Linked DNA regions of Homo sapiens: all the other regions are reported to be linked to region 3. Evidence: microRNA targets listed by miRTarBase, many of them from high-throughput screens and not tested one by one. Region 3 holds a microRNA gene; each other region holds the end of a gene's coding sequence.
Evidence for each region. Region 3 holds the annotated microRNA hsa-miR-3171 (AGAUGUAUGGAAUCUGUAUAUAUC, at 2,035-2,058, shown strand). A microRNA usually pairs through its seed, bases 2 to 8, with sites in the 3' UTR of a target mRNA and lowers its output. Matches are read on the target gene's strand: a 7mer-m8 pairs with bases 2 to 8, a 7mer-A1 pairs with bases 2 to 7 and ends in A, and an 8mer does both.

Region 1: miRTarBase lists ZHX3 as a target of hsa-miR-3171. Seed matches in the 3' UTR shown: 7mer-m8 at 2,262-2,268.
Region 2: the mRNA of ATP2A2 is a reported target of hsa-miR-3171. Seed matches in the 3' UTR shown: 7mer-A1 at 2,196-2,202.
Region 4: the mRNA of SPA17 is a reported target of hsa-miR-3171. The part of its 3' UTR that is shown has no 7-base or 8-base seed match.

Annotation. Positions count from the first base shown.
Region 1 is chr20:41,182,604-41,185,603 of GRCh38, forward strand. It overlaps ZHX3 (zinc fingers and homeoboxes 3), which reads right to left. Exons shown (of 4, transcript NM_001384317.1): 4 at 1-2,598. The coding sequence ends at 2,588. Among named protein-coding and RNA genes, the nearest start is that of MIR6871, 15 kb to the left of the region's middle.
Region 2 is chr12:110,346,084-110,349,301 of GRCh38, reverse strand. It overlaps ATP2A2 (ATPase sarcoplasmic/endoplasmic reticulum Ca2+ transporting 2), which reads right to left. Exons shown (of 20, transcript NM_170665.4): 19 at 3,184-3,218; 20 at 1-3,101. The coding sequence ends at 2,832. Among named protein-coding and RNA genes, the nearest start is that of ANAPC7, 56 kb to the left of the region's middle. RefSeq lists an enhancer at 1-109.
Region 3 is chr14:27,632,086-27,635,303 of GRCh38, reverse strand. It overlaps MIR3171 (microRNA 3171), which reads left to right and starts at 2,026; the gene lies at 2,026-2,099. All of the region lies in intron 2 of MIR3171HG (MIR3171 host gene), which reads left to right. It overlaps LINC00645 (long intergenic non-protein coding RNA 645), which reads right to left. Exons shown (of 5, transcript NR_039992.2): 4 at 960-1,060.
Region 4 is chr11:124,693,940-124,697,157 of GRCh38, reverse strand. SPA17 (sperm autoantigenic protein 17) reads right to left here. Exons shown (of 5, transcript NM_017425.4): 5 at 1-2,855. The coding sequence ends at 2,712. Among named protein-coding and RNA genes, the nearest start is that of SPA17, 22 kb to the right of the region's middle.

The DNA of each region.
Region 1 (3,000 bases), not on the chromosome of region 3:
TTTTGATCATCTTTCAAGGATAAGGTCCAGAGCATACTCACTCACTCTCATCCAACAGCAGAGGAAGAAGGATCTGTCCAGACTGCTGGGCTCCTTACATGGGCATTCTTGCCTTTTGTAGTGTAGCCCTGGCTGTTGGGCAGGGCTAACATCTATAAGAAAAACATACCAGGGCAGGCAGCACTGTACTTTTCCACCTGAAAGATGAGCTAGTGCCCATGGCTGGGTCACTGTAGGTCCTGCATGAACTTGTCCACCAACTGTGTTTTGCTGTTTGGGTTGTAAATTAACCGTGAATACAAGTAACCAAGAAAATCCTCTCCACAGACCAACTCTTCAGCCAGTGCATGCAGGGCTCTGGAGGTGATGCCAGCAGGATCTGGAGGTGAGGCACTGGGTGGTTTCTCAGACACCCGGAGATGGCTTCAGCCTGGGCCGCCCCAGCTGCCTAGTGCACTGGTGTCCCTCCAACACAGGCTACTCCCCCAACACCCATGTGCCACCAAGTTTCTCAACTGCACACGCCAGATGCGCGTTTTACGAGAATCAAATGAGTATTTATACTGTATATGTGTGTGTGTATATATATATATATAAATTAATCTGCACGTATATAAACACTAAAAGGAGAAATTCCAAGTGTCTGTTCTCTGAAGGAAAGCAATCACTCGCCATTCTTGGCAATTCCTCAAAGGTTTTTGAGACCAAACATCTTTACTCCCCAAATTAAGAATACAAAAATAGGCTGCAAAACTTGCCAAGTACTCACAAGTCCCTGTTTGAGACAAATAAGATGTGGTCCCTATTGGGACAGGGAGGGCAGAAGATGACACTTTAGAAGAACATGATTTTGGTTTCAAAAGCAAGACCTCTCCTGGAAGGCAGAAGGGGCCACCGCCATGCTTGTCCTTGGAGCCACATGAGCACGGTGCCCTGCCAGGTCCAGTTCCCTGGGTAGGGGAGAAGGACGGTCCCTAAAACACCACCAGTGCTTCTTGCCCAAAGCCCTTGCCCTCTCTCTGGGGTCTTCTAGCACTGTCACTCTGCCCAGCCCAGGAGGTGTCTGTGCCCACGAAGCCTGGTACTTGTGGCTTGGCACTCTGGGAAGCAGGTGGTTTCTAAGAAATGAGCGGAGCTACAGGTGGACAGGTCTTTAGTTCGCCCCTCTTTACCAGCTACTCTCAGAGCAACCGGTCTTGGGGAAATTGAGGATTTACCATTTAGAACAGCTCTGTAAGCAAGTTTTCTAATTTTCAAAGGCACCATTTCCTGTAATTTTCTCAATTCAAAAAAGGACATGAGGGTTAGGCTAAAGTAGAGTTCTTGTTTCCAAGTTTGGGGACATAAATATAAAACTTTAAAAGCATCCTCACAAGGACCAGTGATGCCCAGCACCCTTGGGCATGCATCCAGCACACCGGCCAGACCCTGGGGTGGGAGCCACGGGCACTCTGGGTGTTCTGCCAGGGATCTCTGCATGCAAGTCTTTGTGCTAAAGACCACCCTACCTCTGATAATTCCAAGAAGTCAACAAATCCCTCCAGCCTTCACCCTTACTAATGGGCCAGTGTGTTATTCCTTCCCAAACCATAGGAGGCTCTGAAATGAGTGTGGAGAAAGGGCTCTGAAAACCGCAGTGGTCAAAGCTTCAGGCTGTGGCTATAGATTTCCACTTACGTCCCTACCCCATGTCTTTTTTCCATCTTTCTCTCACTCCAAACATGTCTAGATTAAAAAAAAAATGCAGGCACATAGGTCAGCACATTAGGCTTAACAACAAATGTTTCTTTAGTTGATCTGATAACTGAAAAGTTATGGTCCATGATTCAAACTCCCATGAAAAAGCAGAATTACGGTAACAACTAAAGAGAATGGTAAAGCATCCAACGCTAATCACATTGCCAGTCCATTTTTTGAACTGAGGGTTACAGCAGGTTCTGCACTGAGTAGCCCACAAGGCAAAGCAAGCCTGACATGAAACGTAGCCGGTCATCACTTAATGCAGCAGAGATCTCTTCAAAGGTACTGCTTCCTTGAGGAACACAAAGGGGGCACAAAGGGGTTCCAGACGTAGCTTTGTGCCTATAACTTCCCTGCCTGACTGTGGAAGGTGAGGGGCACCTGTGACCCAGCAATCCCCAGAGAACAGACACAGGTCATTTTTAGAGATGACGTAACTGACAATGCACTGCTTGGCTAACCAAAGTTTCTACGTAATGACAGTGTTGATAATCTGATGTTTTATTTAACATATAGAGGTGGATGTATATGTTAAAAGCTTGATTCTGTGTCTATGAATATGACTATGAACTCTGAACTATTTTATCCATTGGAAGGTAAAGGAAAGGTCCTACATTGTGGGAGGAAGAACTGATGAGAACCCCATCTTGCTTGCTGCTTGCTTGGTGGTGGGCAGGCCGAGGGTAGCGGCAGGCTCTGGGCTGTCTGCGAGGATTCTGGAAGCTCTCCCAGGTGCCCAGCAGCCGGGCATGGGAACGGCATGTGGCAGCAGAGAGTCGGGTTTGGCTCTTCCACGTGGCAGGCGGTTTCCCAGACTGGCCAGTCCTTCACATTAATCAGATCAAATTCAGTCTGTTTCTGAGAAGAAAACACATGCCTGTCACTCTACGGCAGCTGCCACCACCTGCCCCCCAGGCAGCCTGGTCCTTGCTATACCAGGGTGGCATCACTGGCTTTGAGGACCTCTTAATTCCATGAGCAATGAATGGCCTTCTGCCACCCACTCCCCCACCCTCCAGCCTGAGGGAATGTGGGTTAAGGACAGGATGCTGGCTCAACCTTGTAAGGCCATCAGACTCTCTGAGAGACCCTGCTAAACCCTAGGCCTAGCAGCAGGAGCAGTGGTTTGGCCTCTCCAGGCCCACTAAATCCCCCTAGCTCCCCAGGCTTCCGCCACCACCGTCTCTGGAGTCCTGTCCTAAAATGCTTCATCCTGCCCTCTCCTTCCAGGCTCTCCAGAACATACTGTTCCAATATAAT
Region 2 (3,218 bases), not on the chromosome of region 3:
GGGCTGGGCAGCTGCTGCCTCACTGTTAGGTGAGGGCCTGAGGCCAGGGATGTGCCAAGACCACGGTGCTGGACCTGGTCTTTATGGGTTGACCTGAGGAGGAGATGCTGAAGTGTTTTCACCCAGCAAAGCCTTCAGTGAAATGGAGCAAGTGGCCCTGCTCAAAACAGCAGTGGGCCTAACCCACTCCCAGCTGTCTGGACCAAGGGAAGTGGGTCCCTCCATGGGCTCCTCTGTGGGCTGGAGGGGTCTGAAGCTGAGAAACCATGAAGCTAACTAGGGGCTGTGCGACAGCAGGCCACACACTACTCAACTTTTTTTGTAAAGGCCACTAAGTCAAGGAACTGAGTCAGGAAAAGCTGAGTTTTGTTTGCACGGAATAGCAATAGTGCAGCACTCAAGTCAGTTTGCAGCCCAGAGATGCACTCCTTGCATTTGGCCCATTCAACCCATTTCTTGTTACACCTCATGATGCTCAAACTGGCAAAATTTACCCCCTGCCCCAAATGTTCCCTGCTGGGCAAAGCAGCCTCCCTTCCCGAGAGCCACAGCTGCCTGCGAGCAGCCTTGGAGGCTTCACAGTAAGGCTGATTTTTTTTTGACAGGGCCTCACTCTGTTGCCCAGGCTGGTTTGAGTACCTGGGCTCAAGCAATCCTTCTGCTGTGGCCTCCAAAGGGCTGAGACTTACTTACAGGCATGAGCCACCACACCCAACCACGGACTGTGCTTTTAAGAGTCGGTCTCCAGGTTCCACCTCCATCCCTTGAACGTGGGCCCTCTGAACTCAGCAGCACCTTGTCCTGCTTGATGCCTCCTAACCCTCCCCAAACTCCAACCATCTGCATTACATCTACTGGCCATCCCAGTAACCAGAGCCTAAGTACATTTTGAAGAATATAGTCGAGGCCTCACACCCTGGCTAAGGAGTAAGCTGGTTTTTGGGCTGTGCAGAGCCACGTCCTACTAACTGTGCTTTAACATCCCCTGCAGAGCTAAGTCTTAGCCACCAAGGACAAGACCAAGCAAGGGGGGGTGGGGGAGTGGGGAAGTGGCCTATTTAAGACGAACCTATCGATACCCAGAGTTCACTGGTTCAGTTACTTGCTTTCACTAGTTTTTAGCTTTTTAATAAATAAGTAGCAATGTTCTGGGATGACTCCTGGCAGCTGCGAACCCTCATTTTAGCAATAGTCTGCACAGCTCCTTCAGCCTGTTGGTCTGGCTGAAATGCCTCTCTCCCCACTCCGGCTTTTGTCTGGCTTGGGCCCTCCTGGTCATCTTGTCCTAGGCAGCCTGTGGAGGTCTATGAAAGCCACACCTCCAGCCAGCTGATGCTGCGCCCGAGTCACATGGCAGGCGCCACAGGCAACCCCGGTGCTCACAGGGCATCAGGGAGCACAGCAGCATCTGCCATGGAGGCGGCTTATAAGTTAGTGACATACAGTTATCTCACTTGGTGGCAGTCACCTTTAGGCTAAAGCATCCAAATCCCAGGAAGAAAATACTCACGTTAGTTGATGGATGTTGGAAGGCATTGGAGGAAAACACCACAGTTAGGACTGTTAATGACTTACACACTGTTGGTGAGACTCATCTCGAACATGCGCAAACATTGATCGTAGTAACGGTGGTGGTGGTTAGTGCCACATTCAAATAAAAATAGTTCTATACAATATGTTCATTTGGTCATGTGCTATTTACAGATTTTACAAAACACACACATACACACACATACACACTTGCCCTTATGTTCTCTATACCAGGCCAGCAGAAACTTGCATAAAATGTACATCACAGATGACAATTAGTGCCTGTACATTAAGAATACAATTCCTATGACTACCTACACAGCAGAGCAGGAGCCTTCTTCCCCTCAAGCAGAGTACAACTAAAGTTCTGAGCTAAGAACTGGAGAGAAAGTTGGACATGTCTGTTAGTCCCAGGTAAGCCACTTACGAGTTAAAGACAAGACAGTTATTTTTCTCTGTCCATTTAAAATGTTTTATTTTTTTAAAACTAGATGACGTGCCACTGAAATAGGCAATGTTGGCAAAACAATGTCTGTTACAATAAAATACATTAGACATTTAAATAAATAACCTTAAAAACTATGTGAAGGGACATAAACCCAGTCGATTGAATCTGGAACAATGTTTTCTGCACAAGCGAGTACAGGCATACCTCTCGTTAAAACTGATGTAAACAGAACGAACCATCACAATCCTAAAGAAGAAGCCAAGCGGGGCGGGGGTAAGGTGGGGAGAGGTGGGGTGGGGTGGGGTGAACGGAGGCCAAAGTGGGTGAGGGAAGTAGCAAACCAAAACAATACTGACTGAGGTAGCAAGACTCTGCTCAGTGCAGAAAAATTGGCTTATGAATAAAAATTAGACTGTGATATCAAATTAAATCCGGATCATCATGCAAAAGACACAATACATGCTATTTAGTTTTAGAAAAAAAACCACACACATTCATTTCCTAAAATCTGCTGCCAATTAATTTGCTGACAATGTCTGCTGGCTCAACTATTTTTTTTATACAAGGATGAGTATTAAACAGAACACTGTACATGCTTTTTCATCTACAAAAAAATATTTGCATAAAATAGTGTTAGTTCTCTGTACATGTCAATGGACACTTTAATTATGTGTATAAAAAAGGAAAATCTTGCCCCACTGGAGTCAGAAAAAGCAAAACAAAATCTAGAGTATGAAACCTCCATCACCAGCCAGTATGTTCATGTGAAAATTCAGCAGAAATAGACAGTTGCTTTAAACAATAAAAAAATTAATTGATTAAGTTAAACATCTTCTTTATGGAAAACTGTCAGTCAAGACCAGAACATATCGCTAAAGTTAGTGTCTGTGCTATAGACCCAGATCACCAGGGGCATTATGAGCAGCACAAACGGCCAGGAAATCCCATCGGTGCATGCCGAGAACGAGCAGGATTTGGTGGCAGGCTGCACACACTCTTTACCAGGTTCCAGGTAGTTGCGGGCCACAAACTTGAGCGTCTCATCCATGAGAATCACGGGCAAGGAGATTTTCAGCACCATCAGCCACTGGGTCACGTTCAGCGGTGTGATCTGGAAGATGAGCTGACACACAGGGAAGACGTGTCACGCCTCCAGCCTCCCCTGGAAGGAGGTGGCTGGTCCCAAGCCCCACCCAACCACTTACTGGCAAGGGTTCGACATAGAGGATCAGGAAGTGGA
Region 3 (3,218 bases):
TCTACTTTATAATCCTTTCACTCTCTTTCCCCTAAAATGTGCTGATAAAGCTAGCATTATGTAAATGTTACTAGTTACTATAATCAAAGAAATGCTCCTATGCAGGCATATTCCCTTTCCATTCTATGAACACACACACACACACACACACACGCACATATTATTCATTTTTAGAAATGAGCCTAATCATATATATATAATACATACATTATATATATATATACAAGAGACACAGCTTTAAATTATACAGAATGACAGTTTACTAAGTTGTCATAGAGCCTGCTATCTGAGGGGAAGAATATTGGATTCTTTCTATAGCCAACCAAAAAAATAAAAAATAAAAAACAAAAAACAGAAAGCCCCTCCCTCTAATGTTTTTCATTTAAGTCCCAACTGTGCTGTAGCCTTTAACTGTGTAAGACAGCAAGACAGCACATTTTGTAGATTAAACCAATAAACTCACAAACATAAAAGAAACAAATCTCATAATTGCGGATTTCAATTAAAGGAAGGGGGATCAACGCAAACATTCTGCTGGAAATTACACAGCTGCTATCTATACAAAATGAGAAAAATGTCTAGAGCCAGCCATAATTTTACAGACGGAAAAAAAAAACCATGCAGCAAACCCTGCAGTAGGACAGATTGTCTATGCTCCTCACGTCCCAATCAGTAATACAGAAATATTGAGTAATAAATTCCCTGCCTCTCTCGATCTGAAAAGCTCCCACCATCTGTGAAAGACAATTTGTAACAGCCTCAATATTAAGATTCAGTAAACAGACAATCACTCCCCTTGTGCCAAGCCGTGGCTACATTTGGATAAAAGCATAAAGCAAAACAATTAGTAACACCAAGACCCCTCTATTACAAATTATCGAGCCACCAAAACAACTAGTTTCAATTGCAGTTTCCCTTCTACTGGAGAGGAATGCAGGAGATTCTGCATATTTGGCTACCTCTGTGGCCCATGCGTAGGCCTCATCCTGATGCGTTGAATTATTATTGATGGCTGAGGCAGTTCTGCTCTGTTGGTGAACCAATAATGTCAAGGCACCACCTGCAAGATTAATTATAGGAGAGAATAGGCTGAGGTTTCTCGGGACTGAGACATTAATATAGACTGAGCATTAGTTTCAGGGGATTCAACAGACAGCTGAACTAACGCCTCGAACAACGTGATTCGCACTAAATCCCGGTAGCTGTATCTTAGCAGCATGTGGAAGCTTAGAACAATTGTTTTTAACTATGAGGTGCAGCGCATTATGTATAATAAAAAAACCCTAAAATACAAAATCAACAATTCTACCTGAGTTACAAATTCAACCTGGGCTTTGCGGAGAGCATAGATGATACTATTTCACCACAAAGAAAAGATGACGCCACTTTCCTCATGCGTTTGTCCTTGGGACATGTAAAATATGTTCTTATTTACTGTATTTTCTAGGGTTTTGAGTAGGGTGACAAATCTTCCTGGTTTTCCTGGAAAAATCTCAATTCACACTTGGTATCCTGGAGTGATTATTAAAAGCACACACATTTTATTCTTAAACTGTCGTGGTCTGGATGATAAGTTATACAGTCACTTTAGTTCTAAGGCATATGGAGCCTGAAGCATTTACTCACTGTGGCTATAGCCATCTTTTATGTAAATATTTTATTTGCTTATGATATGCAGATATTTGTACACTTTCTTGGAAATAAAAATTTTAAAGAAGCTGAAGTGTGAAGTTAAATAGAAGGATATGCTACAGTTTTAATCTTAATGAAATTTAACTTGGGGCTTCTACCTCACTTTGCCAAATTCAAAGTTTTATTATATACAGTTATATTATATATGTGTGTATATATACATAAATGTATATACAAATATTTATATATATGTATATACCCATATGATATCAGGTAACATTCATTTGATTCTTAATTCTTAATCTGTACTAGACACTCATCAAAGGATTTTACATATACTAATTCTTGTTTTATAGATAGATAAATGGATATATGTGTGTAAATATTTATGCATATATATAGAGATGTATGGAATCTGTATATATCTATATATATGTGTATATATAGATTCCATAAATCTATATATGTATGTGTGTATATATATGTAAATACATATAAAATATGTATGGAATATCTCTCTCTATATATATACTCTATATTCTCTCTATATATATTTTATTAATATTTTCAACTGAGAAAAGTGAGGCACAGACGGATGAATTATCATGTTCATGGTTACAGAGTGAGCAAATAGTAATGTTCAGATTCAAATTCAAAAACTCTGTCCTTAGTGTCCAGTCGGTAACCAGTGAAAAAGCTGTCTTATAATTCATATATGTATGCATTTAATACATGCATTGCAGAGGTTTCTGTATCAGTCTCACTATTTAAATCATCTGGAGTATACCAGAGAAAACACACCATGGTAGCAAAACTAGTAAGCCTGGAGAATTACAACCATGCCCTGCTGAATTTGTTATTGTAACTAGGAGGCTATTTTGTATTCTAATATAGAATAGTTATCTCAAAATAATTTATTTTACTTTGCAAGTTAATGCTATTCTCTACTATCTCTCTATTCTCCTCCCAGCAGCAATCAAAAGGAACTTGAAAAAAAATCCAGGATAGATTTGATCTATTTTCTTAAAATGTCATGACTGTGGAGCGTATGATAGTTAGAAATAAGTTATCAGGCATCTCCACACGAGTAAAGACAAATGTCTTTGTCAGTTTTAAATAGACAGGGAGGAACACTTTGCTTGCGAAGGAACCTAAATTCCAAGTAACTGGAAGGACGGCATTTATATATATGTATACATCACCTATCACCCGCACTCCTGTTTAGAGTGTTTCAATAGAAAATTTATAATTAAAAGGTCTTGTAATCTGAATACACCATGTACAGTTATGCATGTTAAGAGTCTGTCTAGTTTTATTGATGTTATTATTTCACATGAGGAAAACACAAGAATAGAAACAACACATTTTGCTAACCAGAGAAGATGGGGAGCAAGGGTCAACCTGTCCATGAGATTCTTTCCACAGAGCCTTAGATCACATTTAAAAGACTAAGTAAAGCAAAGTTTAGAAAGATTCTCTTGCTTTTCTAGCATTCCATAGTTGTGCCTGCCTCCAGGAGATTTTTCACAACAGTTGATAAAACGGTCCTCTTTCTATGGCTCTCCATCCTAAATATACTCTTTAGT
Region 4 (3,218 bases), not on the chromosome of region 3:
GCAATAATTCACAAGGCTATCATGGGAACTAGGACCAAGGCGGTAACAATGGAAGTGGTTAGAAGTAGGCAGATTCTGAGTATTATTTTATAGGTACAGCCCACAGGTTTTGCTGATAGATTGTATATGGGGTGTGAAAGAAAGTGACGCATTAAAGATGAATCCAAGGTTTTTGGCCTGAGCAAATGGAAGAATGGAGCAGCCATTTTTGAATGGAAAAACTTGGGTGTGGGGGAAGTTTCAGATTTGGGGGCAATATCAGGATTCATTTTTTATATGTTACTTTTGAGATGCCTATAGACATCCAAATGGGGATGTTATGTAGGCAGTTGAATATAGAAGTTCGCAGGCAGAGGAGAGAAAGGTCTGGGAGTGATCATTAAGAAGATTGGATTTTAAAGCTATGAAACTGCAGGAAATCAAGTGAGTGTAGAAATGGGGTCGAAAGACTGAGCCTAAGGGCACTTAGCATTTAGTGGTTGGGGAGTTGAAGAGTTACCAGTGAAGGGAATTGAGAAGGAACAGCCAGAGAGATAAGAGGAAAACCAGATAAGTTCTAATAAAGTGTCATTCATATGTGTTGTTCTCATAATATCACATCCATTGCTCACCTTTTCCTTTTCCTCCTTCACTACCAATATCACTACCATGAGATCTGTGTGTGTGTGTGTGTGTGTATGGAATGCATAGTGCTAGTCACTTTATGTGTATAACAGGAGAATTACTGAAAAAGCTAACTCATCTTTTTTTTTTTTCCTGCTATATACTCACTAGGGAAAAAATCCCTTTTTTCCTCTTCTGATCTCTCCAGGTCAGGGAATCTAAGTCTTTGCATAAATTCTGGGTCCCCCCTTGACAATCCGCTAAGCAGGATGGCTCTGTCTGAGAGGGGAAGGTGTTAGAAGCTGGTGCTTTCAGTGGAATGGGAGGGACGAACAGCTGGAATCCTGGAGGAGAACTGATTTCTTTTCCTCTGTAAGCCTGGAGGAGAGGGGTTAAGGAGGAGAGGAAGGGGGATATTAGAGACTTGTGTTTAGCTAGCATGAAACTCTCTACAGTGGCAGCAAGATTTTGGAAGGAGAAAGGCTGCCTGTATGAGTGGACATTAGAGAATGAAAGCCACAACCTTGAAAGGGTTGGTGTGAATCAACTGTGTTTGAGTGGCGATCACTTGGGGGAACCTCTGTTGCAGAGCCTGATAAAGGCTCAGTGCCAGGGAAGGGCAGTGAGGCACCTGAAATAAAACTGCTTTGCAGAAAGAGCATGTCTAAGCCTAGGACAAGGATCAAAGTGTTTGTAGGAGAGTATTTGTTGTGACAACATAGACCTGGTTTTAGAATCTCCTCAGGACTGAGCCATCCTGGCTTGTTTTTAAGCTTTGGGGGAACACTGGCTTTGTGACTATAAACCAAGAGAGATGTAATCCTGGAACTAAATCATGGGCCATCCACTATGGTGCAGGCAGGAATTGGAACCAGCCAGAGAATCACCTCAGTCTGCTGGACTATGCTACAACATTATGGTAGAAGGCAACAGCATTAACTAAATGGTAAGACTCCACTTTCTACCTTTTGTATTGGGAAGAGAACTGCACCCTTTGGTCTAAGACATGAACCCTCAGTTTCTTGGACAATCAAGGGTGGAGAGGCCTCAAAAAGGAGAGACGGAACTTTCTAAAACTAAGGCACTAGGGATTTGAATGAATCATTGAAAACATAAAAGAGATAAAGCCTCTGAGTTTGTTAAACAGGCATTACCATTGTATATTTAAAAACTTGGGAAGTTTTAACTGAAGAAGGCAGCATGATATGATAGCTTTTGCTTTTTACAATATGATGTTATTAGTCTTGTTCTGTGTGGTTCTGGAGAGCAAAACAATAAAGCATTGTAAGTTGTATGAGTGTAAGAACAAGTATTCACTACTAATTCCCAGCACATGAATAGTACTCAATACATTTTCAATAAATGATTGAATACATGTATGATAAATGAAAACCAGTGGGTTAAACTTACAAGGAGGCAGAGGCTTTTTTTTGTTTTGTTTTGTTTTTGAGACAGAGTCTTGCTCTGTCGCCCAGGCTGGAGTGCAGTGGTGCGATCTCGGCTTACTGCAGCCTCCACTTCCCAGGTTCAAGCGATTCTCCTGCCTCAGCCTCCCGAGTAGCTGGGATTACAGGTGTGCGCACCACGCCTGGCCAATTTTTGTACTTTTAGTAGACATGGGGTTTCACCATGTTGGCCAGGCTGAAGGAGGCAGATTTTTGTCCCAGCTTATCTTTCTAAAAATTCCAAAATTAAATAGACTATCCTTAAAAAGCAGTGAAATTCTTTACCACTAGGAGTGAAACAGGAGCTAAAGAACATTTTTGGGGGATGTGATAGAGAGGATTTATTCATTTGATAATAGTTAGAACACATAACCTCTGAGATCTCTGTAATCTCAGATACTTTAGTTCTATAATTCTAAATCCAAGGGTCTCTATAGATAGGCTTGAGACAAGTGTAAACAAACTCATGATCTCAGAGAAATCTTCAAGTGGCATGTTTCAATGGTATGCTTATTAAACAAATGCTCATGACAGATTTTCACAACAGTAACGAATGTTATTTCACAACATCAAATCTTCCTTCCTCAGGAAGAAATGACATTAATAAGAAGGTTGATGGATTTGGATTATTTTTCATGTTTCCTGGAGGTAAAACCAGTGTCCTCACTTGTTTTCCTCTTTTTCCTCATTTTGAAGACTATTTGTTTTCATTTTCTTTGCCTCCTCTCTGGCTATGTGTCCCCGGAAGGCAGCTTGGATTTTGACAGCAGCAACCTCTTCTTTTTCCTTATCTTCCTCAGAAGAGTCCTTCATCGAAAGGAGAAAAAGTAAGAGACTCTTTAAATATGGCGTAGTTTTGATGCCACAAAAATAAATGGATGAAATTTAATCATTTTAGGGATGCAACTATCTGAGAGCTGTTGCTTCCTGAGGGAATTTCATATATTGTCACATTGTATATGTACCAAATGGCAAATGCCAAAATAGCAGGCATTTTGTTTTGTCACTCTTTTAATATGTCTCTGCAACAAAAGATCATTGCCAACTTTCTTTCCCCTAAAATAGTGCCTATTTAAGTTTCCTGAGCAACAACATTTTTTGGGGGGTTGGGGGGACAAGAAAGAATCCTTGAGGCATGGTAAAAATGTTAAGAAGAAAGAACTGTAAATG